Linked DNA regions of Homo sapiens. The protein of the gene in region 1 purifies or fractionates together with the protein of each later gene. This does not show direct contact. Each region holds a gene or a part of one and is shown in the gene's direction. Other genes may lie near its edges.

Region 1 (3,500 bases):
CCTCCCACAGATATCAAAGGATGACTGTACTTAAATTTATTCTGTAATTTTGACATAAACTTGTGGTTGAATTATGGGAAAATTTTTGTTGGAATTGTTAACATGTAAAAAGAATAATTCCAACTATGCAGTTACATTTTTTTCCCAGTTGATGTTATTTTTTAAAAATCTCCTTTTAAATAGGCATTCTACTGGAGATACCAAAGTTCCCTTCTGTCTTCAGTCCTGTGTAAAACCTTTGAAATATGCCATTGCTGTTAATGATCTTGGAACTGAATATGTGCATCGATATGTTGGAAAAGAGCCGAGTGGACTAAGATTCAACAAACTATTTTTGAATGAAGATGGTAAGAATTACATAAACATTGGTTGAAAAAAGAAATGTCTCATTTTCCTATGTAAATCTAAGTCGTTTTAAACATTTTTTGATTAAAATTAAAAGTATTTGTCATGTGATTTCTATATAATCCATTGAGAGAGTTTCATCACCTACTTTTAAAAATGATTATTTTAGGCATCTCATACCACTGGGAAGTGGGCTAGGGAGAACATGAACTTCTCTCTTCATAACCACCTTTAGGGAAATATAGCGAAATCTCAAAATACATGAGATTTGCTTTAAAATAATTTAGTTAAGGCAGCTGGGAGTGCTGGGTATGATTATTACTATATGTTGGTAATTATTGCAGCTAAATGATAGGTGCATGGGTGTTTGTATATTATTCTATCTATTATATTGTATATAGTAGTTGAAAGTTTTATTGTGGCCCTGGTTGAGATAGTGAGGATTATTATTTTTCAGTGAGTGTTTTTACTTTTTATCCTTATAACATTAAAAAATTTGAAAGAAATGCTTTGTGTTTAATGCTTGGTTAACAAATCTTTTTACAGGAATTCAAAAGAAAAGGGGAGGACAAAAGTAGTTAGTTTGATCTGATAGAGATTTTAAGTCTAAACATCATTTAGCTGAGTGCAAACTAAGTTAAACTAGTCCCATGGTTTGGTTTCTGTTTTTTAATCTTCTAAGCATATGCTGTGTTTCTGATTGATGAGTTAAGATATAGAATTGAAGAAAGTGAGAGCGAAGTTTGTAGTAATGGCTGTGAGAGATACACTTTTGTACTTTTTTTTTCTGCTGTATAAAAAATGAAATGTGCCTTATACTCATTATTTTATTAGTTTGTAAGATGAAGTCATAAGACTGGTATTTTCTTATGCTTCTCATCCTATTTATTTTGAGAGCAGTTACATTTTCTTTCCCATTTTACCGTAACCTTTTTATTCTGATGCTACGTTTGGTTTTATGGACATTACTGTAAATTAACAACTTCAATAAGGACATCATATGCAGAAGCACTTTATTTACTAAGCTCATTGACATCTAGATTTAATATTGAAAGAATTAATACTGTTATTCTAAAAATACCAAATATTTTAAAAGAAAAATTTAATACTTTTCCATGAACAGCAAAGGAGAATAGACATGTCTAGTGAATTGATGGATTTCGAGGGAGATATTTAAGAAAAAACAAATATAGTAATTTGAATGTTTAGAGGATTTCAGAAACAAAAAAACAAAATGGGCTTGGAGCAAATGAAATTAACAGTATAAGTAATGAATTTTTTTGCCATATATATTTATGGTTTTAGGAATCATGAATTATTGATACTGTATTCTATATAAGAAAAAATGACAAATCAGAGATTTAGAATTGTTTATAATAAGAATAAAACATAAAGTTTAACAAGAGATTTTGCCTCGATATTCATAGACGTTTTCTAAGCCTGAGCCAACACCCTGAGTCTTGAAAGTAACAGTAAATACAGGCTTCACTATATTACACCTTCCTGAATTCTGATTAGAGCCTGTGCTCTTGAGTCCTGATTTAGTTTAGCCCAGCAAAAACAATTTGAAGATCTCGTTCATATTTAAAATTGCAAGGGTAGATTTTTGGTGAAACCATACACTTTTTGTGTGTGTATGTATATATGTGTGTATCTAAAATAATAAATTTTTAAAAAATAAATATATTACTGTTACACCAGCTTTATAAGATTGTGATGATTTATTAAGACTAATAGGGATATGGTAAATAGAGAAATTGTAGTAGTTTTTTTTTTTTTTTTGAGATGGTGTCTGGCTCTGTCCCCCAGGCTGGAGTGCAGTGGCATGATCTCGGCTTACTGCAAGCTCTGCCCCCCGGGTTCACGCCATTCCCCTGCCTCAGCGAGTAGCTGGGACTACAGGCACCCGCCAGCACGCCTGGCTAATTTTTTGTATTTTTAGTAGAGATGGGGTTTCACTGTGTTAGCCAGGATGGTCTCGATCTCCTGACCTCGTGATCTGCCCGCCTCGGCCTCCCAAAGTGCTGGGATTACAGGCTTGAGCCACTGCACCCGGCAGTAGTTTTTAATAACAGTAGTTTTTTTTTTTTTTTGAGACGGGGTTTCACTCTTGTTGCCCAGGCTGGAGTGCAGTGGCGCAATCTCGGCTCGGCGCAATCTCGGCTCACCGCAACCTCCGCCTCCCGGGTTCAAGCGATTCTCCTGCCTCAGCCTCCCGAGTAGCTGGGATTACAGGCATGTGCCACCACCCTGGCTAATTTTGTATTTTCAGTAGAGACGGGGTTTCTCCATGTTGGTCAGGCTGGTCGCGAACTCCCAACCTCAGGTGATCTGCCTGCCTCAGCCTCCCAAAGTGCTGGGATTACAGGCGTGAGCCACCACACCTGGCAATAACAGTAGTTTTAAAATGTTTGCAACATAGAAAGTTTTGGTAGGAGGTGGCTGATATTTTTTATCATTATAAGTGAGCAAACAAGTTACTTTATGGAGATGTCAGTTTTGCAAACTACCATCTCCCAGGGAAGTCTTTTTCTACCTTGTAGTGATCGGGTTAATCAACAAATTATTTATATAGCTTTCCTTGTCTGTATTGTTAACAGCTCTGGAGGGTACATGGGCCTTGCTTCTTGGAATAACTTTTCTGACTACAGGATACAGAAGGCAATTACATATTTCTAATACATAATGGGAGAAGACATACTTAAGCATTGAATACTGTTAGTTGTATTATCTTACAAGTATGTAATTGACAGGTGCCAAAATGTATGTGCTGATTATATGTGTGGAGGATTGAGAAAAAAGAGGAGTTGAGTTAATTTACATGAGGATGACAGGACTGAATTGATAGGATGAATTGTGGATGGTTGGGAAGAATGTGAGAGGGCACTGCACATTTTTTCCAACCATCCTCAATGGGCACTGCACATTCTTCGTAACCATATATATCCCAACCAGATGGAGAATATTTTCTCTATATCTAGAGAATATATTGTAAATGTGTGTAATGTCAGATAATTGAGTTTCCTTAACTCCAGTTTTTATTTGGCACTGTAAAATTCCAATATAATACCGAAAATATAAATATCCAAATTAAATTGGAAATCCTTTTTAATATTTTTCGTTCTTTAGTATATGTATTAGCAAACTTTGCCTCA
Region 2 (3,982 bases), on another chromosome or scaffold:
TGCACAGGTCCACTTATACACAGATTTTTTTTTTCACCCAAAAGCGGATAGAAAACAGTATTTTCAGGCAGAAATGCTTAAACAGAGGGCAGACTTTTCCTATACGCGGGTTCCCCAGGGCCCACAGCTGGACTTGGACTTGAATATGGGATGATTTTAGTATGGGGGGGCGGAGGGGAAGAGGGCCTGGAACTAGTCCGTTGAGTATAACGAGGGACAATGCTAAGTATGTTATAATCTCATTAAAAGTACACAGAACTTGAGATACGCAATAACCTACTAACGAACCAAGTGTTACAAGACATGCTAAGACCTTGTGTTGTAAGTACTTGTGCACTTACTCGATCTCCCTGCTTTAGGGCCAGGACCGAGTTTTTTTGTTTTTGTTTTTGTTTTTGTTTATGTATTCTCTCGTTGTATCAGTTCATCTTGCCCCAGACCTGTCACCCACTAGAATTTGTTGTTAAACAAATGAAGCTTCCTTTCTCATGTGGCCCCCACCCCTCTCCTAAAGGAGAATAAAAGGTCGAGAGAACGGATGAGGTTAGAATGCTGGTGGGACTGAGATGGGAAAGGACCTTAAAGGTTACTCGCCCAAAGAGGAAAACCAGCCTTTTCCCTGCAGACGGAAACTGACGCGCTCCCCCTGGAGGCAGCGCAGGATGCTCCCGGGGGTCCAGGCGTCCCAGCCTGAGGTCCCCATCCTCGTGTGCAGCCTGGGCGCCTGGTACAAGTCGGGGTAACCCTGAGGCTTGTGCATCCAGAGAAGCTAGGTCCCCGGTGGAGACTAGCTTGGGATAAGGTTGGGGAGACGCCCTCCGTTCTTCTAGATGCCTGGGGTCTCAACAGCAAGCAGTGAGGAATGAGACTCTTAACTGAACAACTCCTGAGACTGTTAAAGGAGTGCATACTATTACAGGGACAGGCATCCCCTGTGAACCTACTCATGAATTTTTCCTAATGCTTAATTCAGCTTGGGGGCAGAAATGCTGGGGTGAGACACGGCCAGGTCCGCCCCGTTCCTCCAGGGAACTCCCCTCTCCGCCCTCCCTCTCCGTCTCCTCTTGCCCACCTCCTCCTCCTCCCCTCCCCCCACTCCATCCCACCGCGCCCGCCCCTCGTCATCGCCCCCTTTCCCCTCCCATCTCCCGGCCGTGGTGCGGCGCAGCTCTCTCCCCCTCCGCAGTCTCAGTGGCGAGCTCTGGGTGCTGTGGCCCGGCCTTGGCGGGGCGGCCTCCGGCTCAGGCTGGCTGAGAGGCTCCCAGCTGCAGCGTCCCCGCCCGCCTCCTCGGGAGCTCTGATCTCAGCTGACAGTGCCCTCGGGGACCAAACAAGCCTGGCAGGTAAAGATGAAGCTCCCCAAACCCAACAACCTTAGAACTTAGAAATTTCCCTGAGAAAGGCAGGACCTACCCGAGGAGAGCTTCTTTGAAGGACTTTGAAGAAAGGGATCAAACTTGACACTTTCTTTCAGTCCTCAAAGAAACTAACCACCCTTCCCATAGGCAATTCTGTGTGCCGGCCTCTGCACAGTTTAATATTAACGACAACAATGTTTGCATTGGAATATAAATGGAATTCTTTCTGCTTAAGCAGTACCAGAGGGGACCCTCTTTATTTTTATGATTGTTAACAGATGCCATTGAGAAAGGTATGAAACGCATTCCTGAAAAGTCTCTTTGGCGGGGTTACTATGAAAGCTAGCCTCTCCCCTCTACCCTTTTATCAACTTGGCTGCGGAGGTCAGCAAAAGGAGCATAGGAAAACGTTTAGAAAATGAGGCGGCGAAATGAAGTAGAAAAGCTTTTGACTTGCTTTGAAATACTCTAGCTGAAAAAAAAAAGTGTGTGGGGTGGTGATGGTGGATGAAACATTGGCAAAATATTGACAATAGTTGAAGCTGGTGATGTGCACATGGGGGTTGTACTTTTCTCTCAACTTAATACTTTTCTCTGTGCTTTTGTGTAGTCTTGAAATTTTCTATAATAAAAGGTTTTTTAAAAAGTTGTAGAAACACTCCCGCTTGATTGCTCTGACATTTTTACACTGTCCTTGATTTGAAAAGAAGCTGCTTGCTGTGTCTAGGGGGCTTTCACCCCTTATTAACCCTTCTGACTTCTGAAATTCATTCTTATTTTATCCGAAGTACATTTGTCTCCACAGAGGATTATAAAAGTCATATTTTGCTGGCTGGAGAATTATACTTAGAATCTGGTTTATAATTTAGAAGAGAGAATGTTAAAATCCCTGCCAAATAAGACATGTAGGCTTGAAGGTAGAGGCCAAGTATCATATGGAATTTTATTTTTATTAGGAAATATTAGAGGAGTTCCTTTAGTGAGGGAAGTGGTAGATGTGGATACTGTACCCCATTTTTCTTCCAGATAGCTGGGAAAACTGCATGCTTTTAAGAAGCTTTTTCACGTTTTAAAATGTGAGACTGTTTAGCATATACTTGGCATACAGTATGTGTTCATTAGATGTTAAAATAAGCAATTGCTAGTGTGAGTTAATTTTCTCCATTGGGTAAATGATTTTCCTCTGCCCAATGCTCAAATATCAAACAAGCATATTGCATTTTAACAGTAGGATCAGACTCAGAATTTGGGAGGATAGAGCTACTTTACCTTAGCACTGAGGTAACTTTGCAGATGAGAAATCTGAGATGGAGAGGTTAGGAAACAGTAAAGTTAAGTTAGTAGTATGCAAGCTATTATTTTATAACTAAAAAACGTTAAGCTTCGTATAGGTAAAACTGATGTGGGTTAGCTAAAAACATTGTGACCATAGATGCTTTAAAACCTGAAAAGTAGCATACCTATTTATAGATATTCTTTGCTCTCAAAGGCCAACTTGAAAAATACAGATAAGTCTAGAGCTATATGCTGTGCACTTCATAAGGCAGCATATGAAAGAGTCCTCTTGGGGTTCCTTTAATGTCATTCACCCAAAATTTGATTTATCCATAGGATTGCACAAATTGAGATGTACAGGTCATGGAAAAATAGCCCCCAAACAAAGGGAGGTTTTGTTTTTTATTGTGATGAGAAACAGAAGTTGTGGGTTACTGTAAAATAATCAACTGTGTAACTTTACCATCTTCCTTTCCCTCAAGTACTGCCAAACTTTTTAAGCAGACATTTTTTTGGTCTCCATTTATGAAACTAAACTTGAAAATAGTGCTATGGTATGATATTTTGAATAGAAATTGGCCCACTGTCAATGAACTTTCTTGCCATTTATTCTCAGCCTAGAATCAGTGGAGAGCTTATCCTTTAGTAATGGATTATAAAGTATTTGATAAACGTGAAATATTTGGCAGGTTCAAGATTTTCCTTAGCATTGAAATAAATTGTGGCACATTTGGGGGACTAGTTAACAGTGCTGTAGGTCATGCTGGAAGTGTGCTGGCACTACAACTGTTTTTGAAAAACTATCTGCCAGAAAATTGTCTGACTGTAGACAGCATTATCAGCCCTCAGTTCATCAGGATGGGCTCTGTGGCCTGTAGGTAGGTGGGTTTTCTAAATATAATAAATTTCATATGTCTCCCTATGTCACAGCCATTTAGTATATTATTAGCCAGTTAAAAGTTTTGCCCCTGCTGAATCTTACATGCTTTTAAAATAAAATCTATTTCACAGCTGAGTAAGTGTAAACATTTTAAATACCTGCGTTAGATTTGCCATCACCAGGCTAATTTTGCCATCTAGTGGTAGCAACATGGATAACAGGCAAGTTCTTCCCTGGATGACTAGGAATTGAACCTTCCTGAGAAGCATTGATGAGTAAATTACTTGTGTTTTCTCATTTGTGGTTTACTCTAGAACTTTAAAGCTGGAAGAAATCTTAGAAATGTTCTAGTCCAACTCAACAGTTAAGGACTATCAGAGAGATTCTTTAAAATAAAGGCTTCGAAATGCATGGCGGAGTTAGCAGGTGGTATGCATTTGTTGAATAGACAAATTTATCTATCCTGTTC
Region 3 (3,928 bases), on another chromosome or scaffold:
AAGGAATGCTGCCGCAGAACATCTCCCATTTCTGCTATCCTGCTAGTGCCACCCTACAGGGGCAGGACAATACCCTCCAATGCGTGCCCGCCTTCCACATCCGGCAGAGTACTACTAATTGGCAGCACCTAGTCCACATCCAGAACTCTAACTGCAAATGAGGCTGGGAAACATGGCGGTTAGCTTTGGGACCTCCCTAGCCAGAAGGAAGGTGCAGCGAGGGTGGAGCGAGTGAGATGCATGTTCAGTGGTCCATCTTGGCAACCTTTATAGCAACAAAATGGAGACAATTAAATGTCCAACAGTTTACCCCTACAACAGAATTCTATGCCACCTTGGAGAGGATGATGTCATCTGTAATTAGTGATAGGAGAAAACTTCAAAATACAGCGCTAAGTTTTTAAATTTTTTTTAAAGCAGCACAACAGAGGTTACTATATGATTTTATTTTTATTAAAATAATTTTGAAAGATGCAGAGGAAACAATACTAGCAGGACGAACACCGTAATAATGGCTACCGTAGGTGAAGAGATTACAGGTGATATTTTTCTTCTTTTTTCATCCTTTCCTGTGTTTTCCAAGCTTTCTACACTGTGCATACATTCTTTTTGTCCTTAGGACAAAAATGTACTTTGAAAAATGCCCAAATATAAAATCTTCTTGAAGGAACTGAAGAAAGGAGCAGTGAAAGTGGAGGACAGAAATTAGTGAATCCTGGACAAAAAAAGTGAGGGAGAGGCGAGGCAGAGAAGGGGTTAAGGGGAGTCTCAAGGATGGCAGTCGATTAAGCAGCGTCTTGCAGCGGGGAGAAATGCAAAGTGTAGTTGGGGTTCGGTCTCCGAAAACTTTGCTGTGTGACCTGGGGAAGCCCCTGCCCCTCTCTGGGTATCTCTGTTTCCGCTCCCAAACCAGTGCCTTAGGAGCCTAGATCTGAGCAACGTGGACACTGGGCTTGCGGAGACCCGAGGGAGGGAGCGCTGAAGCGGTGCGGGCTGCCGGGGGTAGAGGGGCGGGGACCGGGAAAGACCGGGCGGGGCGAGGGAGGAGCGGCCTTGGCCGGCGACAGGACGTAGGCAGCGCCCCAGGCGCAGGCGGAGCCTCATTGGCCGCTGAGCCCCGGGCTGCGCGGAGGCGGGACCTGCGGCCAGCCCTGGGCGGCCATGTGGACAGAGCTGGGAGGGCCGGAACCAGAACCCAAGCGTGATCCTGAACCGGAGCCCGAGCCTGCTGCAGGTAACTAACGCTGGTCTCCCCTCGGCTCCCTCGGGAAGCCGCAGCTCCTGGCTCCGCGTGGGGGCTTTCCTCTCTGGGCCGCGGCGTCCGCATCTGGGGGCTGGCCTTTCCGCCGTTGCACTGTAGGACTCTCTCCACGTCCCCTAATCCCATCCCCCGCCTCTGGGTGACGCTACAGGAGCCCCGAGGACACAGACGCCCCCAGACCTTACCACGTTAGCTCGACCTCAACACTCCTGCCCACTCGGCCCACTTCAACAGAGGGCCCCTGACCATAGCCCAGAGGCTTGGACAAGCCCAAAGGTTGCGCCCTTTCCCCCGCAGAAGGGGTGAGGTGGGCGCCGCTGCAGTTCCCGCGGATAGAGAAGGTCCGGTCCTTCCCGCTGTGGGTGAACTGTAAAAAATTGCCTGTATTCAGGAGGATATGCAAAGCTAGGTTTGTGGAAGTCTGGGGTGAGGCTCCTATACTTTCTTGCTGTGTGTCCTCGGTGAGTCCCTGAACCTCTCTGATGCCCAGCCTTCTTCCAGAATGGGGGTCATCATCAACCCTGACCACCCAGGGACTGCAGAGAGGCTTGGCAAATTTCCCGTGAGAAGACAGCCTGCAAACTGTAAAGCATGATGCTCTGTGAGCTGTGATCTTCCTATCAGCAAGTGGAGGCCCCAGCAAGAACCCCATATAGGCCCCAAGAGTAGGAACGGCCTTGGTGTGGCTGCAAAGGTTTGCCAGCCTTGGCCTATGACCACCTCTCCTGACTGCTTCACCCCTCCAATCCTTACCCCATGGGTTGGTGACTCCCCTTTCCCCTACCTCCTTTTGGTCTCCTCACCCTCAGAGCCAGGCCTGTTGGTGGCAAGGGGGCTGTGTCCCAGCATATGGCAAAGTCCTGAGCTAAATGGAACCCTGGGCACCCCTGGCAGATCTGCTGACTCAGCTTCCCCCTGTGGGATATGATGAGGTTTCTCTTCAAATAATCTGATCAATCTTTTATTCTTTAATTCTTAGTATCCCCCCCTTTTTTTTTTTCATTTTTCTCCTTTTTGCCTTTGTTAGATGCCCAGGCATGCCACAGTACCAAGCGTTATCAGTACCAGCTCACATTCCTTTGCTTATTTGGAAAGAAGACTAACTTTCTAGCTCATTACAGACACCCTTTCCCCTTTCTCTCCACTTTCTTTTACGTGCCCACTCTATCTAAAATAAATCAAATGTTTAGCCAACCGGGATTAGTTTAGATTGTACGACCTGACCCCAGCCAATGGGGAAAGGGTACAGGGGCAGGACTTGCATCAGGAATAAAGGCTCTCGTGCCCCTTTGTTCAGGTGTGCTCTCATGGCAACTGGCCAAGGAGGCATCCCTCTGCGCAGAAGTAAAATTGCTTTGCTAAGAATCCTGTGTTCGAGTGTTCAATTTCCTTAGGATTTTGAGCATTATTCCTAACACCCGCAAGGGGAAGGGAAACTTTCTTGGTCAGCATTGATTATTATTATTTTTTTTAGATACAGTCTTGTTCTGTTACCCAGGCTGGAGTGCAGTGGCACAATCATGGCTCACTGCAGCCTCAACCTCCTGGGCTCAGGTGATTGCCCCCACCTCAGCCTCCCAAGCAGCTAGAACTACAGGCATGCACCACTATGCTCGGCAAATTTATTTTTGTTTTTTTGTAGAGACACGGTTCTTGCTATGTGCTCAGGCTGGTCTCAAACTCCTGGCCTCAAGCAGTCCTTCCACTTCGGCCTACCAAAGCGTTACCAGCGTAAGCCACCACGCCCATCACATTGATTTTTATGGGGCCGGGGACCTACATGGAGCCTTGCTTTCCTGATTGAGTTTTTTGTTCCTCTCCCTGCCCAGGGGTGGAGGGTGAGAGGCTGGGGGTGAAGGGACAGGCAGGTGCAATTCCATTTTACCGCTGGGCGGAGCAAGACTCATGAGACATCAAAGGCAGAGAGATTCAAATTCTGACTGAAGAATAACTGCTTCAACTAATCTGGGAACACTACACTCTGTTTAATTTTCATTTAATATGTATTATATGCCGTTTAAGTTTTATAACAGTAGTTGTTTTAACGAAGTCTACACTCTTCAGAGTTGTAGCTTTTCTTCTCAGCTGCCTCCTGACTTGCTGCACCTCTGGGAAAGCTGAAAAGGGATGCTGAGACCTGTGGTTGGGGGATGCTGGGCTAGGTCAATTTCTGAGGCACGGCCAGTTCTGATGTCCTGAGTGGAGCTTGCCAGGGTTTTTATATGCAAGACATCATTCAACATAACCCCATGAGGCATTTCACATATGGGGGAACTGAGGCACAGAGGTGAAATGAAGCAAGTCCCTCTCAGAGAACAACCATCTCCAAGTCCCTTTGATTTCTACTCAAGTCTTAGGTCAATTCTTAGACAGCCTTTGTGGCAATTTCAGTGTTTTCTCAGTGTATCATTCAGTACTGTGTGTTGAGCCGCTGCTCTGTAGCAGGCATACCTCTAGGCTCGGGGACGTAGCAGTGAATGGAACAGAAAAATAAGTTCCTGTGCTCATGGAGCTTGCATTTTACTGGGGGGAGACAGACAAACATATAAGCCTGTAAAGATAGTATTTGGGATGTGAGATAGAGAAGGAGTAAAGCAGGGTAGCGGGGATAGAGAGTGTTGGGGTGGGAAGGGTTGCAATTTTTTAAAGGGTGGTCAGGGAAGGCCT
Region 4 (3,500 bases), on another chromosome or scaffold:
GTCCCATCAATACCTAGTATATTGAGAGTTTTTAGCATGAAGGGCTGTTGAAATTTGTCGAAGGCCTTTTCTGCGTCTGTTGAGATAGTCGTGGTTTTTGTCTTTGGTTCTGTTTATATGATGGATTACGTTTATTGATTTGTGTATGTTGAACCAGCCTTGCATCCCAGGGATGAAGCCAACTTGATCATGGTGGATAAGCTTTTTGATGTGCTACTGGATTCTGTTTGCCAGTATTTTATTGAGGATTTTTGCATCGATGTTCATCAGGGATATTGGTCTAAAATTCTCTTTTTTTGTTATGTCTTGGTATCAGGCTGATGCTGGCCTCATAAAATGAGTTAGGGAGGTTCCCTCTTTTTCTAATGATTGGAATAGTTTCAGAAGGAATAGTACCAGCTCATCTTTGTATCTCTGGTAGAATTCAGGGTTTTTAGCTTCTTTGTGATGGGTTCAAACATCATCCTTTACCTCAGAGAAGTTTGTTATTACCGATCTTCTGAAGCTTACTTCTGTCACTTGTCTAAGTCATTCTCCGTGCAGCTTTGTTCCATTGCTGGTGAGGAGCTGCGATCCTTTGGAGGAGAAGAGGCACTCTGGTTTTGAGAATTTTCAGCTTTTCTGTTCTGGTTTCTCCCCATCTTTGTGGTTTTATCTACCTTTGGTTTTTGATGATGCTGACCTACATATGGGGTTTTGGTGTGGATGTCCTTTTTGTTGATGTTGATGCTATTCCTTTCTGTTAGTTTTCCTTCTAATAGTCAGGACCCTCAGCTGCAGGTCTGTTGGAGTTTGCTGGAGGTCCACTCCAGACCCTGTTTGCCTGGGTATCACCAGCGGAGGCTGTAGAACAGCAAATATTGCAGAACAGCAAATGTTGCTGCCTGATCCTTCCTCTAGAAGCTTTGTCCCAGAAGGGCACCCACCTGTATGAGGTGTCAGTCGGCCTCGACTGGGAGGTGTCTCCCAGTTAGGCTACTTGGGGGTCAGGGACCCACTTGAGGAGGCAGTCTGTCCATTCTCAGATCTCAAACTCCATGCTGGAAGAACCACTACTCTTTTCAAAGCTGTCAGACAGGGACGTTTAAGTCTGCAGAAGTTTCCGCTGCCTTTTGTTCAGCTATGCCCTGCCGCCAGAGGTGCAGTTTACAGAGGCAGGCAGGCCTCCTTGAGCTGTGGTGGGCTCCACTCGGTTCGAGCTTCCTGGCTGCTTTGTTTACCTAGTCAAGCCTCAGGAATGGCAGACGCCCCTCCCCCAGCTTCACTGCCACCTTCGCAGTTCCATCTTGGACTGCTGTTATAGCAGTGAGCAAAGCTCCATGGGTGGGGGACCCGCCGAGCCAGCTGCAGGATATAATCTCCTGGTGTGCCGTTTGCTAAGACTGTTGGAAAAGCGCAGTATTAGGGTGGGAGTGTCCCGATTTCCCAGGTACCATCTGTCACGGCTTCCCTTGGCTAGGAAAGGGAATTCCCTGACCCCTTGTGCTTCCCAGGTGAACCAGTCCTAATGAGATGAACCCAGTACCTCTGTTGGAAATGCAGAAATCACCGTCTTCTGCATTGATCACGCTGGGAGATGCAGATCGGAGCTGCTCCTATTCGGCCATCTTGATTCTGGACTCTGATAGTTAAACTTTTTATAGTCTTAAAGATCAGAAGTACCAGATGTTCATTATAGAAAGAAAATTCAGAAGAGAATACATCAAAATAAGAATCATGGATAGCTGAGTGGTAGGTCTGTGGTGACTTTTTGTCATAAGTATGTTACGTCAGAAACTGTGACGGGTCTGAGAGTTTCCCTGCTTTCAAGAGTGTGTGTGTATATGTGTATATATTACATACATATACATATAAAACACATATAATATACATATACATAATTATACACATATAAGCTATGTTATACACATAGAATAATATATAATCTATATAATATACATATATTCTATATTATAGTTGTAAATTACACAATTATGTGTAATATATGTATATTTTATACATATATATATTCTAGCAAGAGACATGAGGCTTTTTGGATCACAGAGAAGGATGGTTTATTACAGCAAAATGCAGCAGCCATAGCAATACCTTAGCACTAATTTCTGTTTATTTATTATTATTTTTTTTTTGTGATGGAGTCTCACTCTGTCACCCAGGCTGGAGTGCAATGGCACAATCTTGGCTCACTGCAACCTCCGCCTCCTGGGTTCAAGCGATTCTCCTGCCTCAGACTCCTGAATAGCTGGGATTACAGGCACATGACACCACGCCTGGCTATTTTTTGTATTTTTAGTAGAGACAGAGTTTCCCCATGTTGGCCAGGCTCGTCTCAAACTCCTGACCTTAGGTGATCCGCCTGCCTTGGCCTTCCAAAGTGCTGGGATTACAGGCATGAGCCACTGCATCCGGCCTAGTTTTTTTGTTTTCAAAGCACCGGTCACCACGGTGAGTGAGGGGATGGGATGAGAACCAGGTGAGATCCCTGTGCATGCAGGAAGTTGCACCAAAGGAGAAGAACCCTAAACTTCTGAGATTCATTTAAATAGAAATTACTGGCACATCTGCCCATCCTCTTCTCTGGGGAGAGAGTGAGAGAGATTGAGATTACTTATTAAGCAAATCTCCAGGGTTGAGAGGGAAGGTATCACTAAGTTTATTATCCTGGAGTATAAGCACATGTTTCAGGAACAGGAAGTAAAGAGGTTTACATTTCTAAATTTCTCCAGATTTCTTTATCTTTAGGGAGATACTGTCTCTGCCTTTCAAGGCCTTTGCTATTCAATCAACTCGTCAGTGTCCTTTGCTTGGAAAGCCCTGACCATGCAGAAATATCAAAATATTCATATAGAATTTTCTCCCAACGAAGTATTTTCCCCGTTATTAAAAATTTATTTTTAATTCGATAAACCAAAGATAACTCAAAGCAGATAATTTATTATTTTCATTTGCCCATTTTTTTTCCTGTGAATGAGCAGCATTGTAGGGCTGTTAAGAATTGGCTCCTTTATTGTTAGGAAATGACTTTTATTGATCCTGGGTAATATCTAATAATATTTTTTGCTCTGAAATCTGTTGTCTGATACTAAATTTCATTTCTTTTTACTTTACCCTCCCCTTTACTTTTCCTTTGATACCTGTGTGGTGTTTTATTAATCAAAAACCCACTGCTTATTATTAAGTGTTTATTAATCAAAAACACTTGTCTGATGATCGTGCTCTGAACCTGCCTTCACCCCAATTTATTCCATAACTGAATAGATCCCACTCTGTGACCACACCTACAATCATATTAGCCCTCAGTTTTCTTTTAAGTGATTTTTCTAGTTAATCAAGATCTGCAGTTCTTTGTTCTTTTTTGACAGGGTCTTGCTCTGTCACCCAGGCTGGAGTGCAGTGGCACAATCATGGCTCACTACAGCCTCAACCTCCTGGGCTCAAGGGATCCTCTTGCCTCAGCTTCCCGTATATGTGCACCACCATACCTGGCTAATTTTTGTTTG
Region 5 (4,180 bases), on another chromosome or scaffold:
AACCAGTAGAAAATCTCCCATAACAGAAATTCAATGTTTGTGAAAGCATGATTGCCCTCCCATTTCTTTTTCACCTTCCTGTGCCTTTCATAAGTTCTTCCAGTTGGTTAATCATTAATTAATATTTAACAAGGCTTTTTCCTCGTGCCAAGTCCTCTGCTAGTCTAGCCTTTAGGCAATATATGAACTCCCCAAGTTCTTCCCTTTTAAGAAGCCTTGGCACTCACTACGGATTAATTTCTCTAAGGAAATTCATAATGGCAGATGAAATAGGGGTTCCTTTTCAAGAACATTCCATTTTAAAGCCTCTCAGCATTTTTTCCTGGTACATGTAAAATGCGACTTAATTGAACTAATTTTAAATGTTGACAGAACTTTCCAAGCACACATTTCCTCAACAAAATGGTTACGACTGGAACAGGAAAGGGCTTAGACTTTTTCTTCTACAGCTATCCCACAAGTCAGTCTCTTGACCTGACCCTGCAAAATCCCTCAAACTCTGGCTCTCTGAGTTGATTTTGGATATACGATGAACCATAGGTTTGGAATGCAGATAACCTCCACGTGTATTAATGAAAGAGGTCAGCTATGACGTGGAAGCCATCTCCTGGGCAGAGAAGGAGAAGAAATGGCAGTCTGGGGAGTAGTAACATGTCTCCAAATTTTCTCTGGTGAAAGGAGACTGATGAGAATTGATACCCATTTCCGGTCAAAAGAGTGGAACCAATGTACTTCCAACCACCTCCTCTCAACCCCTCTCCGCATGGACAAACATACCAGACAGGTGATGTGGGCTAACAATTTACTTGGCATGAGGCCAAAGGCTTGAGGGCCCTGCCCTGCCCATATTCTTCTCCCTTGACTTCTTAAGGAAAGGAATGATTGCTGATGTTTCCCTCTGCACCCTTTGGCACCTGGACTGATTGTTGCAGATGTAATTAGGAATGTTCCCCAACATGCCGTTATTCTTCTCACGATTCTGGGAGAAACTGTACCCCTCCCCCATAGACTTATATAGGTGGCATTCAAATTCTTGTTCCCAACTTTTTCATCTTTTTATTAATCCCACAAGATTGTGTGAATGTGTACTCCGAGCCAGGCACGTTGGACTTCTAACTTCCTCTTAGCCCAAGTAGGAAGGGGAGACTCAGGCGCTGGGGACCATTCTCCTCTCCCTGCAGCAGAGTTGCAGTCCCTATCCCTCCTGGGTGCCCATCCCCGTGCCTATTTTCCTGGATCCCCACCCAGTTGATGTGACAGGCTCGTGGCCCAATCCCCTTCCTGGTTCCCAGGCCGACTGCTAGCACCACCCGAGCCAATGGCGGCGGCCGAGGGGCGGAGGGGGCTGGCAGGAGGGGAGGGAGCGCTGGCTTTAGAGCCACAGCTGCAAAGATTCCGAGGTGCAGAAGTTGTCTGAGTGGGTTGGTCGGCGGCAGTCGGGCCAGACCCAGGACTCTGCGACTTTACGTAAGTGCTTTGTAGGCGCCGGCGGGCACTAGGGGAGCGGGTTTCCTGGGCGTGGGCAGGAGTGGGTCCCGGGGAGAGCATCTCGGTTAAGCTCAGCAGGAACGTGCGGCGCACCGTGGGGCGGGGGTTGGGGGAGAGGGAGGTCGGAGAAATTTCAGTTGGAGCCCTCGGGCGCCCGGGCGATCGGTCGCAACCGAAATGGGTGTGAGTGACGGGGAGTTTCCCTACTAGCATCCGCCGCAGACACGTTTTCTGCACTTCACTGTATTAAGTGGTGTTTTCTTACTAGTTGCTCTTAACTTGTTGCCAGTCTTGGGCTGGAGTCCTAGACGCCAGCCCTTGCCCTGATTCCCCTCCGCGGCTGCGGCCCCGAAGTGGAAAGGGAGCGCACAACTTCCCTCTGTCGTCCTTCTCCAGCTACTGCCATCCCCTCTTCCCTCCCGCCCGGACTCAGGAAATCCCGGAGCCAGCAGCCTGCTACTCCTCCAGCCCCCACACGCCCGCCTCGGGTGACCTGGCTGGCTTAAGCCGACCCTGGGGCTCTGGAGAGGGGGGGCCGTGGCCGAGGGAAGGCACGAGGTTTGGGTTGCCTGCCTTCTGCCTGCTTCCCTCCCTTGTCCTTAGCGAGGGCGTCGCGAACGCACCTAGTCTCCCTATGAGTAAGCACTTTTTTTCCTTTCAGTAGGAGAACATCTCTGGGCTAGTAGGACAGTACCTTTCCGTTCTCCCCTGGCCCCACACCCCCTGTCCTTTTTTCAGCTCCTTTGACTTTGCGGCCCCGGGCGCGCGGTCGGGGCGGCGGCAGTCCCGGACCTCTCCCGACTCTTGGAGAGGGAGAGGCAAAGGGGCGACGGGAGGGAGGTAATAGTCTACCCCCCCGCCCTTTCCCCGCACAGCTGCACTTGCCTGTGTTTACTTTTCTCCACCCGCAGTACTTAAGCGCTGTAATGAGAGGCCCGGGGACGCCGACCACCCCCGCCCTGGCTTCTCGCCAGTCCCAAAGTTGCTGCCGCCGTCGCTGCTCCAGTGTGCTGGCGGTTCCGACCGCCGGGCTCCGGGACGTAAGATGATCCCAGCCCGGGAGGTGGAGTGGGGGTTAATGGCATCTGACTCTAGCCTTATGCGATGCTCCTTGCCTCTCACCTGAGCTGCACGATATCCCCAGTGGTGCAGAAGGTTGAACTTTTGCAGAAGGTTGAGCTTGGAGCTAAGTGGGTTGGAGAGCCTCGCCATTTAGCGTCAGACAGACGGGATGCTGGGGGCGCCCGGCCTGTTAAGAGGGATTGGGAGGAGGGAAGGGAGCCTGGCTAACAGTAGGTAGAAAATGTAGGGAAAAGTAAAAACCATTGAGGGGCAAGCACTTACTCCACTTTGCTGGATGTCACAATGGACTGGGGAGCCTAAACTTGATCCTCGAGATGCAGTTCATGGTGAATTCCAACTAAGTGGCTGGAGCCCCACACATACCAGTTGGAATCACGTGCCCCAAGTCTCTGATGGTCACATGACGTCTTTTTACTTTAAAGCTGGAATGTAATGGTTGAGGCCCATATTCCAAAAACCACCTCTACGTTTGAAAAAAAAAAAGGTGGGGAGGAGTGTGAACTAGCTTCTAATCAAGGAAGTCTACTAGGATTTTGGATGAGGGGACCAGAAAGGGAATTTGGTGCTCAGCTTTTATCCAAAACAAAAACAGGAGCTGTTTTTAAAATAAGGGATTGAAATATATGTGAGCTGGGACATGTATCTCCTCTCTTCTTCAATCTCATGGTTTTTCTAAATTTAAAAAACATCTTACTAATTATTTTCTAGGGAAGTCATCCTATTACTCATGCCTCATTTTGTCCCTGAATACTAGATTTGAAGCTAAATCCCACAAGATAGTGTTAAAAAGTAAGGCTCTGTTCATCTTCCTTGGTCTGGCCTATATTCTAATTGAACTGTTCCCTATTTTAGGCAACTACTTAAAGGTAGTAAATAACCTCTTGACTAAAATTAACCACCAGTTATTTGTGGTTTTCAATTAACTGGATTAGAAATCATGCACAAAAACAGTGGATAGTAAATTTGATACATCGAGTTGGTTGGGTTTTTGCCTGTCAGTGGTTTGGTAGAATAATGAGAGGACACTGAAACAACTTTCCCATATTGACCTATACCCGCCCAAGTGGCCCAAGTTAAGGTTGCTTCTGGGAAAACGTGGCAATTTGGCTATTCAGATTATATATTACAGAGTATAGAAGAGAGGCAGAGGAGCCTCTGAGGTCAGGAGTTTAAAAGCTTTGCTTATCTGAAAAAAAAAGAAAAAACGGACCTGGTTGATGCATATTCAGTCTTGAAAACAACTAGGGCAGAAGATATTTAAGAGATTCTGACTTTGTATTCTTTTGCCAAAAACCCTTTGTCTCCTGCAGCAGCCTCTGAATGACCGGAGCACTCCAGTTTCTTGCTGTTCATCCGTTTCTGAGCCTGAAAACTAGAACAACCTTAAAGCACATTGTTCTGACCCCAAGGCTAGCCTTGTGGCACAGATGAGCTGGAAATGGATTTAAGGTGCACCTGAGTTACTAGAGTTAACTACACTGGTAGATAGACCCCTCTAGTGGAAGTGAGGTGATAATATAATTTTAGATCGAAATAATAAATGTTTAACCTCAAAAAAAGGAAGTTATTACCACTCAACTAGGTTACAGTGGTAGGGGGATAAGTTCTT
Region 6 (2,604 bases), on another chromosome or scaffold:
AGGCATCACTGAGCAGAGGATTCGTGTAGGTGGCAAAGCTAGATGAGGACATGAGAATAATTCAGGAGAACAAAAGGAAACACAGAACATGCAAAAGGCCTGTGCATTCTAGACCAGCCAATTGGTGGGACAGCGTGATGACCGGCAGGGTTCAACAGACCAGGGCATCTTCTTGTGTCTTAAACAGGCATCTCTCCACTGACAGCCGGTGTGGTCACTTGGAGCACGGCTTTAATAAGTCATTATTATATTTTTCAGCCCTTCATCCAGCAAATCAGAAGGACTCAGTACAAACTCCGTTATGATATATCCTAGCCACATGCAGGGTAACATGTAGGATTTTCTATATTGAAAGAATACTTTTCTGGCAAAAAAAAAAAAAAAAGAAAGAAAGGAAAACAAAAAGCACTTTTTTCTTAATGGTAGCAGTATAATGTATTTTGCAACGAATTTGTAATTTTTCTGTACGATAGTTTTGATAATTTATAGTACTTTGATGTCATGTAGCCATTGTATCAGTTGAAGTAATACTTGTTTACTAGAGGAGTTTGAACAAAGCCTTTCCTACTTTTTTATCCCTTTAAGAGAACCAATGATTCTTTAGGAACTTTGAATACTGAATGACTCTCAATCACCGTCAGCTTTAGTAAAATCTCTTTCTTATCCTAACAAGTGTCTTATTTGGTGGAAGAAGAATTAAGAGTGATGGTGATGGTGTGCACGTTTCATTAATCCAACCAAAAATAATGAAATAAAATTTGAGCCACAGTATACCACTCCTTGGGATAAAGTTAAATATTTTTAAAGATCACATTTTCCATGAACGCCTCTAGTAGCAAACCATTCTTTTGCACACCACAATGTTTCCCTCAGTGCCCTTTCTCAAATGGGTACAATGTTCCCTTGTGGCCAAATTTCCCTCCCAGGGAGCAATTTCAGTGCTAGGATCATTGGATTCAGTTCCCAAAATAGAATGTTTCAGTGAGACCATGAGAATTCCAGGCTCACAAAGGGAGAGGAGAGAACAGGGCAAGACGTTTGGTTTCATTTGTCACCATTTTTAAAACTCTGTATGCTAGCACACCAAACTCTTGTCTATATTTACCTTTGTACCACAGTATTAATCGCTATTGTTCATGTATCGTGCTGGAAGTCTGAACTGACTCTAGAGGATGAATTAGCAAGAGGGTATTTTACCAGGTATGATCTGACTTCAGTTGTGCCCATGTTATAATGTGTTTCCGACATAGGAGAGTCGTGCTGCTGTCTAGATCTTCTTGAATGTTGATAAAAATGAATGACTACTACAATACATTTTGTGTTGCTTGTTGGATGAATTTGCATGTTAACTGTAGGCCAATATAGATTTGCCTTTAAAACTCTGGAAGAGCTACATAGTCATCATTAGTTTCTATTAATTATGCATCAGACAAAAGCCATTTGTTACCAAACTGGGAAAACAGAGGCTTTTCTTAACTATTTCACATACTGTAACAAATATGAATTTAAATTTGTGATAGCGCTCTGGTTGCTCTAAGCATAATTAAGAATTTTTGTAATTAATAGGTTGCTAATTATTTATCACTGCTAAAAAGGAAAAAAGGCATAAAATGACCTTCTACTGATTAGATTTTCAGTTTTCTTTCAAACTGGAAATGCCTCCATAAATATGATCTATGATTTTGCTTCATAAAACAGCAAATCAATGTTTTATGTAAAATATTAAAGCATTAATATAAATATGTGAGAATAAAAACAATCTAAATCCAGAAAATGGCAGTCCTAAATGTTCATGAGACAGATTGTATTAATTTAACCAGGACTATGTAGAAGTAGAAAGAAAAGAAAAAGAAAATCTTTTTTAAACCAGAATAAACATTAAAAACTATTGCAGAAAATAGTGGATTTTGGATTCCAAACATTTTCGACAGTGTAATGGAAATTTTTCTGTAATTTTCTTACCATCGGGTATTTTTTAAAGTATTCATTGAGTTTACCAAAAGTTACTGTAGCTTAAAAGGTTTTGTGAGCACTAACTATTGGCAGAAACTGCATTTGCAAATAAAAATAAATGTTTGCCTTTTCCCCATTGTGTTATTGGAAACAGTGATTTCTCAAATTTATTTTATTGAGTAACCAAGAATGATTTCTTTGTGATCTTGGGGAGTGCAAATGAGTTGGTACAAAGTTGTATGTAACATTGTGATGACATGACGTAAAGACAAATATATCCATCCCTAGGGATTGTAAAGAGTGTAAGATGGTGATGTCGATACCACTACTGAAAAAAAAATTACTAAATTCTGGAAGGCCACGTTCAAGGAAAGCCAGGTTCAGGGCTGAAGACTCTCATTCTACTTCCCTGTTCCAAAGATGCAAAACTGATCTGAGGGCTTTTTTAAAAATTAATTAATTAATTAATTATTATACCTTAAGTTCTGGGTTACATGTGCAGAACATGCAGTTTTGTTACATAGGTGTACACCTCTCGTGGTAGTTTGCTGCACCCATCAACCCATCACCTACATTAGATATTTCTCCTAATGTTATCTCTCCCCTAACCACCCACACCCTCACAGGCCCCAGTGTGTGACGTTCCCTTCC
Region 7 (3,500 bases), on another chromosome or scaffold:
CGATTCTCCTGCCTCAGGCTCCCGAGTAGCTGGGATTACAGGCATGCACCACCACACATGGCTAATTTTTGTGTTTTTTTTAGTAGAGATGAGGTTTTACCATGTTGGCCGGGCTGGTCTTGAACTCCTGACCTCAGGTGATCTGCCTGCCTTGGCCTCCCAAAGTGCTGGGATTTCAGGCGTGAACCACCTCAGCTAGTCGGGAGGCTGAAGTGGGAGAATTGCTTGAGCCTGAGAGGCAGAGGTTTCAGTGAGCCGAGATCATGCCACTGCACTCCAGCCTGGGCAACAAGAGCGAAACTCTGTCTCAAAAAAAAAAAAAAAATTATATTCAATGAATATAACTGAGTGAGTAAAAGAATGAGCCAAAGACCTGGAAGAGATCTAAGGGGTCCATGATTCCAGATTTCAGGCGGGGCCACATTCAACTATCATTTCTTCCAAATTTTTGCAGTGGAATACAAGTTTGAAACCTGGTTATCTCCTTAATTCTCCATGTGCTGTGAGGAGATTTGGCATAAATTGAACAATTGGACTTGAGTATTTCCATCTAATATTAAACTACCTTAAGTACTTTGGCACTGCAGAAATGTAAAGCATCCCTTTTATTTGTCATTTCTAGGGGAGGTAACTCCAGGACTATCTCAGGTGGAATATGCACTTCGCAGACACAAACTAATGTCTCTGATCCAGAAGGAAGCTCAAGGGCAGAGTGGGACAGACCAGACAGTGGTTGTGCTCTCCAACCCTACATACTACATGAGCAACGATATTCCCTATACTTTCCACCAAGACAACAATTTCCTGTACCTATGTGGATTCCAAGAGCCTGATAGCATTCTTGTCCTTCAGAGCCTCCCTGGCAAACAATTACCATCACACAAAGCCATACTTTTTGTGCCTCGGCGAGATCCCAGTCGAGAACTTTGGGATGGTCCGCGATCTGGCACTGATGGAGCAATAGCTCTAACTGGAGTAGACGAAGCCTATACGCTAGAAGAATTTCAACATCTTCTACCAAAAATGAAAGGTAACAAATGGGAGCAGAAGTCACATTACAAACCAGATTGGGATTAAAACCTTTCTTGCCTGTTTAGACAAGTCCTTAATTTTGTTATCGTAGCACCACCATGAAAAGACCATGAGCACCATGAAAGAAATGTAAAGTCTTTTTCAGAAGATTGAGCTTCTTTAAAGATTTCATTTATGCCTGGTGCATTGGCTCACGCCCGTAATCCCAGCACTTTGGGAGGCCGAGGCAGACAGGTTCCTTGTGGCCAGGAGTTCAAGACCAACCTGGCCAACATGGCGAAACCCCGTCTCTACTAAAAATAGAAAAATTAGCCAGGCATGGTCGCAGGCGCCTGTAATCCCAGCTACTCAGGTGGCTCAGGCAGGAGAATCACTTGAGCCCGGGAGGTGGAGGTTGCAGTGATCCGAGATCATGCCACTGCATTCCAGCCTAGGCAACAAAGCAAGACTGTCTTAAAAAAAAAAAAAGATTCATTTATTCATTTGCAGGAGGTTACAGTGAGCCAGTGAGCTAAGATCCCGCCACTGCACTCCAGCCTAGGCGACAGAGCAAGACTCCATCTCAAAAAAAATAATAAAATGAAAGTATATAATTTAAGAGTTTTTGGTATAGTCATAGAATTGTGCAACCATCACCACAATGAATTTTAGAACATTTCAATTAAAAAAAAACTCCATGTTCACTGGATTATTCATTAATGGAGACTGTTACCTATCCTAGTTTGAAATCTCACAGAGAATTTTCTTTTAAAGCAAAGGATAAGCCAGACACAGTGGTGTACGTCTGTAGTCCAGCTACTGGAGAGGCTGAGGTAGAAGGATCGCTTGAGGCCAGGAGTTCAGGTCCAGACTGCACAACGTAGTGAGACCCCATCTCCAAAAAATAAATAAATTAAGGACAGGATGGGCATGGACCACTCTTCAAGATTACTGACCAGCTTCTTGATATTTGACAACTACTTCTTATCTTAGTGCTCTTGCCAGCTCTTCAAAAGGAGGTACTGTTCTCCAAGAACGATCCATGCATCACAGCATCAGAATCACCTGGTAATGCATATTAAAATTAAAAATGCATAATATGTAATAGAAATTAAAATCTCAGGCCTCCATCCCCTATCTACTGAATCAGAATCTGCATTTTAACAGATCTTTTGTGGTTCATATACAGTTGAGTTCTTTTTTTGTTTTTTTTTAGGCAGGGTCTCACTCTGTCACCCAGGTTGGGATGTAGGTATAGTGGCACACTCATGGCTCACTGCAACCTCGAACCCCAAAGCTCAAGCAGTCTTCCTGCCTCAGCCTCCAGAATACTGGGACTACCTGGGCACACCACTATGTCTGGCTAATTTTTTTTTATTTTTTTGTAGAGATGGAGTTTCACTTTGTTGCCTAGGCTGGTTTTGAACTCCTGGCCTCAAGTGAGCCTCCCACCTCAGCCTCCTGAAGTGCTGGGATTACAGGTGTGAGGCACCGTGCCTGGCCATAGTTGAGTTCTTGTCCCTCAAAGAAATTACTTTCTCTACAGTTATTCTGGTGAAATTTTAATCAATCCGAATGTTTTGAGATTTTTCTTCTGGGAATTTTTTCAGAACCTACACCACATTATAAACTATCTTTAGTAATTCTTAAAAAACTTTAGCTCTGGGAAGTATTTTATTTTTTGAAGTATCTTATTTGGAAAATAAGATAGATGCTCAAGTTTAAAAATACTGATTTTAGGTCAAGATAATGTATAATTATAAAGTTTTTGTTTGATTTTTCTTACATGGGTTACAAATCATATCTGAAGTTAGCTTCTAAAAGAGAATTCCAAAAATGTTTTTCACAATCATAAAATATATTAGACTGTTTCCTGTAAAGCCTCTTTTGGAAGAAAATACTCATTTGAATATGTAAGTTCTAATACATTTGATTAAATTCTTTTTATTTATAGAAATGTTTTCCATTTTATAGATAATTAGCCTGTTCAATTCATTGAACTTTCTTATGTCTTCAAAATCCACATAAATGTGGGGCATAGAATCATTTTCTTTCTAGCTTTTTTCTTACATTAGTTGCTACTTGTCATGTTCTACTGTCTAAGTTTTATTAATTCAGTATAGTTACAATCTCATGTAAAATAAATTTCTCAAAAGTACTTCTCGGTCACCATTCCTTTTTTTTTTTTTTTGAAACAGAATTTCGCTCTTGCCCAGGCTGGAGTGCAATGGCACCATCTCGGCTCACTGCAACTCCTGCCTCCCAGGTTCAAGTAATTCTCCTGCCTCAGCCTCCCGTGTAGCTGGGGTTACAGGCACGCGCCACCATGCCCGGGGAATTTTTCTGTTTTTTTTTAGTAGAGACAAGGTTTTACCATGTTAGTCAGGCTGGTCTCGAACTCCTGACCTCAGGTGATCCACCCCCCTCAGCCTCCCAGGGTGCTGGGATTACAGGCGTGAGCCACCGTGCCTGGCTAAAATCATATTTAT

The links.
Region 2: the proteins of GLS (region 1) and PRSS35 purify together in Homo sapiens (co-immunoprecipitation; one large-scale study listed by IntAct). This does not show direct contact.
Region 3: the proteins of GLS (region 1) and ALDH1B1 fractionate together in Homo sapiens (co-fractionation; one large-scale study listed by BioGRID). This does not show direct contact.
Region 4: the proteins of GLS (region 1) and ALDH9A1 fractionate together in Homo sapiens (co-fractionation; one large-scale study listed by BioGRID). This does not show direct contact.
Region 5: the proteins of GLS (region 1) and PLS3 fractionate together in Homo sapiens (co-fractionation; one large-scale study listed by BioGRID). This does not show direct contact.
Region 6: the proteins of GLS (region 1) and PAK5 purify together in Homo sapiens (co-immunoprecipitation; one large-scale study listed by IntAct). This does not show direct contact.
Region 7: the proteins of GLS (region 1) and XPNPEP3 purify together in Homo sapiens (co-immunoprecipitation; one large-scale study listed by IntAct). This does not show direct contact.

What each region holds. Positions count from the first base shown.
Region 1 is NC_000002.12:190,904,821-190,908,320, forward strand, and holds part of GLS (glutaminase kidney isoform, mitochondrial isoform 1 precursor), read left to right. Parts: intron 1-183; coding exon 184-347; intron 348-3,500. UniProt on the Homo sapiens protein: Catalyzes the first reaction in the primary pathway for the renal catabolism of glutamine. Plays a role in maintaining acid-base homeostasis. Regulates the levels of the neurotransmitter glutamate, the main excitatory neurotransmitter in the brain.
Region 2 is NC_000006.12:83,511,352-83,515,333, forward strand, and holds the start of PRSS35 (inactive serine protease 35 precursor), read left to right. Parts: upstream 1-1,182; 5' UTR 1,183-1,343; intron 1,344-3,982.
Region 3 is NC_000009.12:38,391,574-38,395,501, forward strand, and holds the start of ALDH1B1 (aldehyde dehydrogenase X, mitochondrial precursor), read left to right. Parts: upstream 1-1,128; 5' UTR 1,129-1,234; exon of another isoform or gene 1,235-2,860; coding exon of another isoform or gene 2,861-2,992; intron 2,993-3,928. UniProt on the Homo sapiens protein: ALDHs play a major role in the detoxification of alcohol-derived acetaldehyde. They are involved in the metabolism of corticosteroids, biogenic amines, neurotransmitters, and lipid peroxidation.
Region 4 is NC_000001.11:165,688,563-165,692,062, reverse strand, and holds part of ALDH9A1 (4-trimethylaminobutyraldehyde dehydrogenase isoform 1 precursor), read left to right. Parts: intron 1-3,500. UniProt on the Homo sapiens protein: Converts gamma-trimethylaminobutyraldehyde into gamma-butyrobetaine with high efficiency (in vitro). Can catalyze the irreversible oxidation of a broad range of aldehydes to the corresponding acids in an NAD-dependent reaction, but with low efficiency.
Region 5 is NC_000023.11:115,559,794-115,563,973, forward strand, and holds the start of PLS3 (plastin-3), read left to right. Parts: upstream 1-1,380; 5' UTR 1,381-1,467; intron 1,468-2,610; exon of another isoform or gene 2,611-2,737; intron 2,738-2,832; exon of another isoform or gene 2,833-2,938; intron 2,939-4,180. UniProt on the Homo sapiens protein: Actin-bundling protein.
Region 6 is NC_000020.11:9,536,870-9,539,473, reverse strand, and holds the end of PAK5 (serine/threonine-protein kinase PAK 5), read left to right. Parts: coding exon 1-12; 3' UTR 13-2,104; downstream 2,105-2,604.
Region 7 is NC_000022.11:40,881,148-40,884,647, forward strand, and holds part of XPNPEP3 (xaa-Pro aminopeptidase 3), read left to right. Parts: intron 1-622; coding exon 623-1,030; intron 1,031-3,500. UniProt on the Homo sapiens protein: Catalyzes the removal of a penultimate prolyl residue from the N-termini of peptides, such as Leu-Pro-Ala. Also shows low activity towards peptides with Ala or Ser at the P1 position.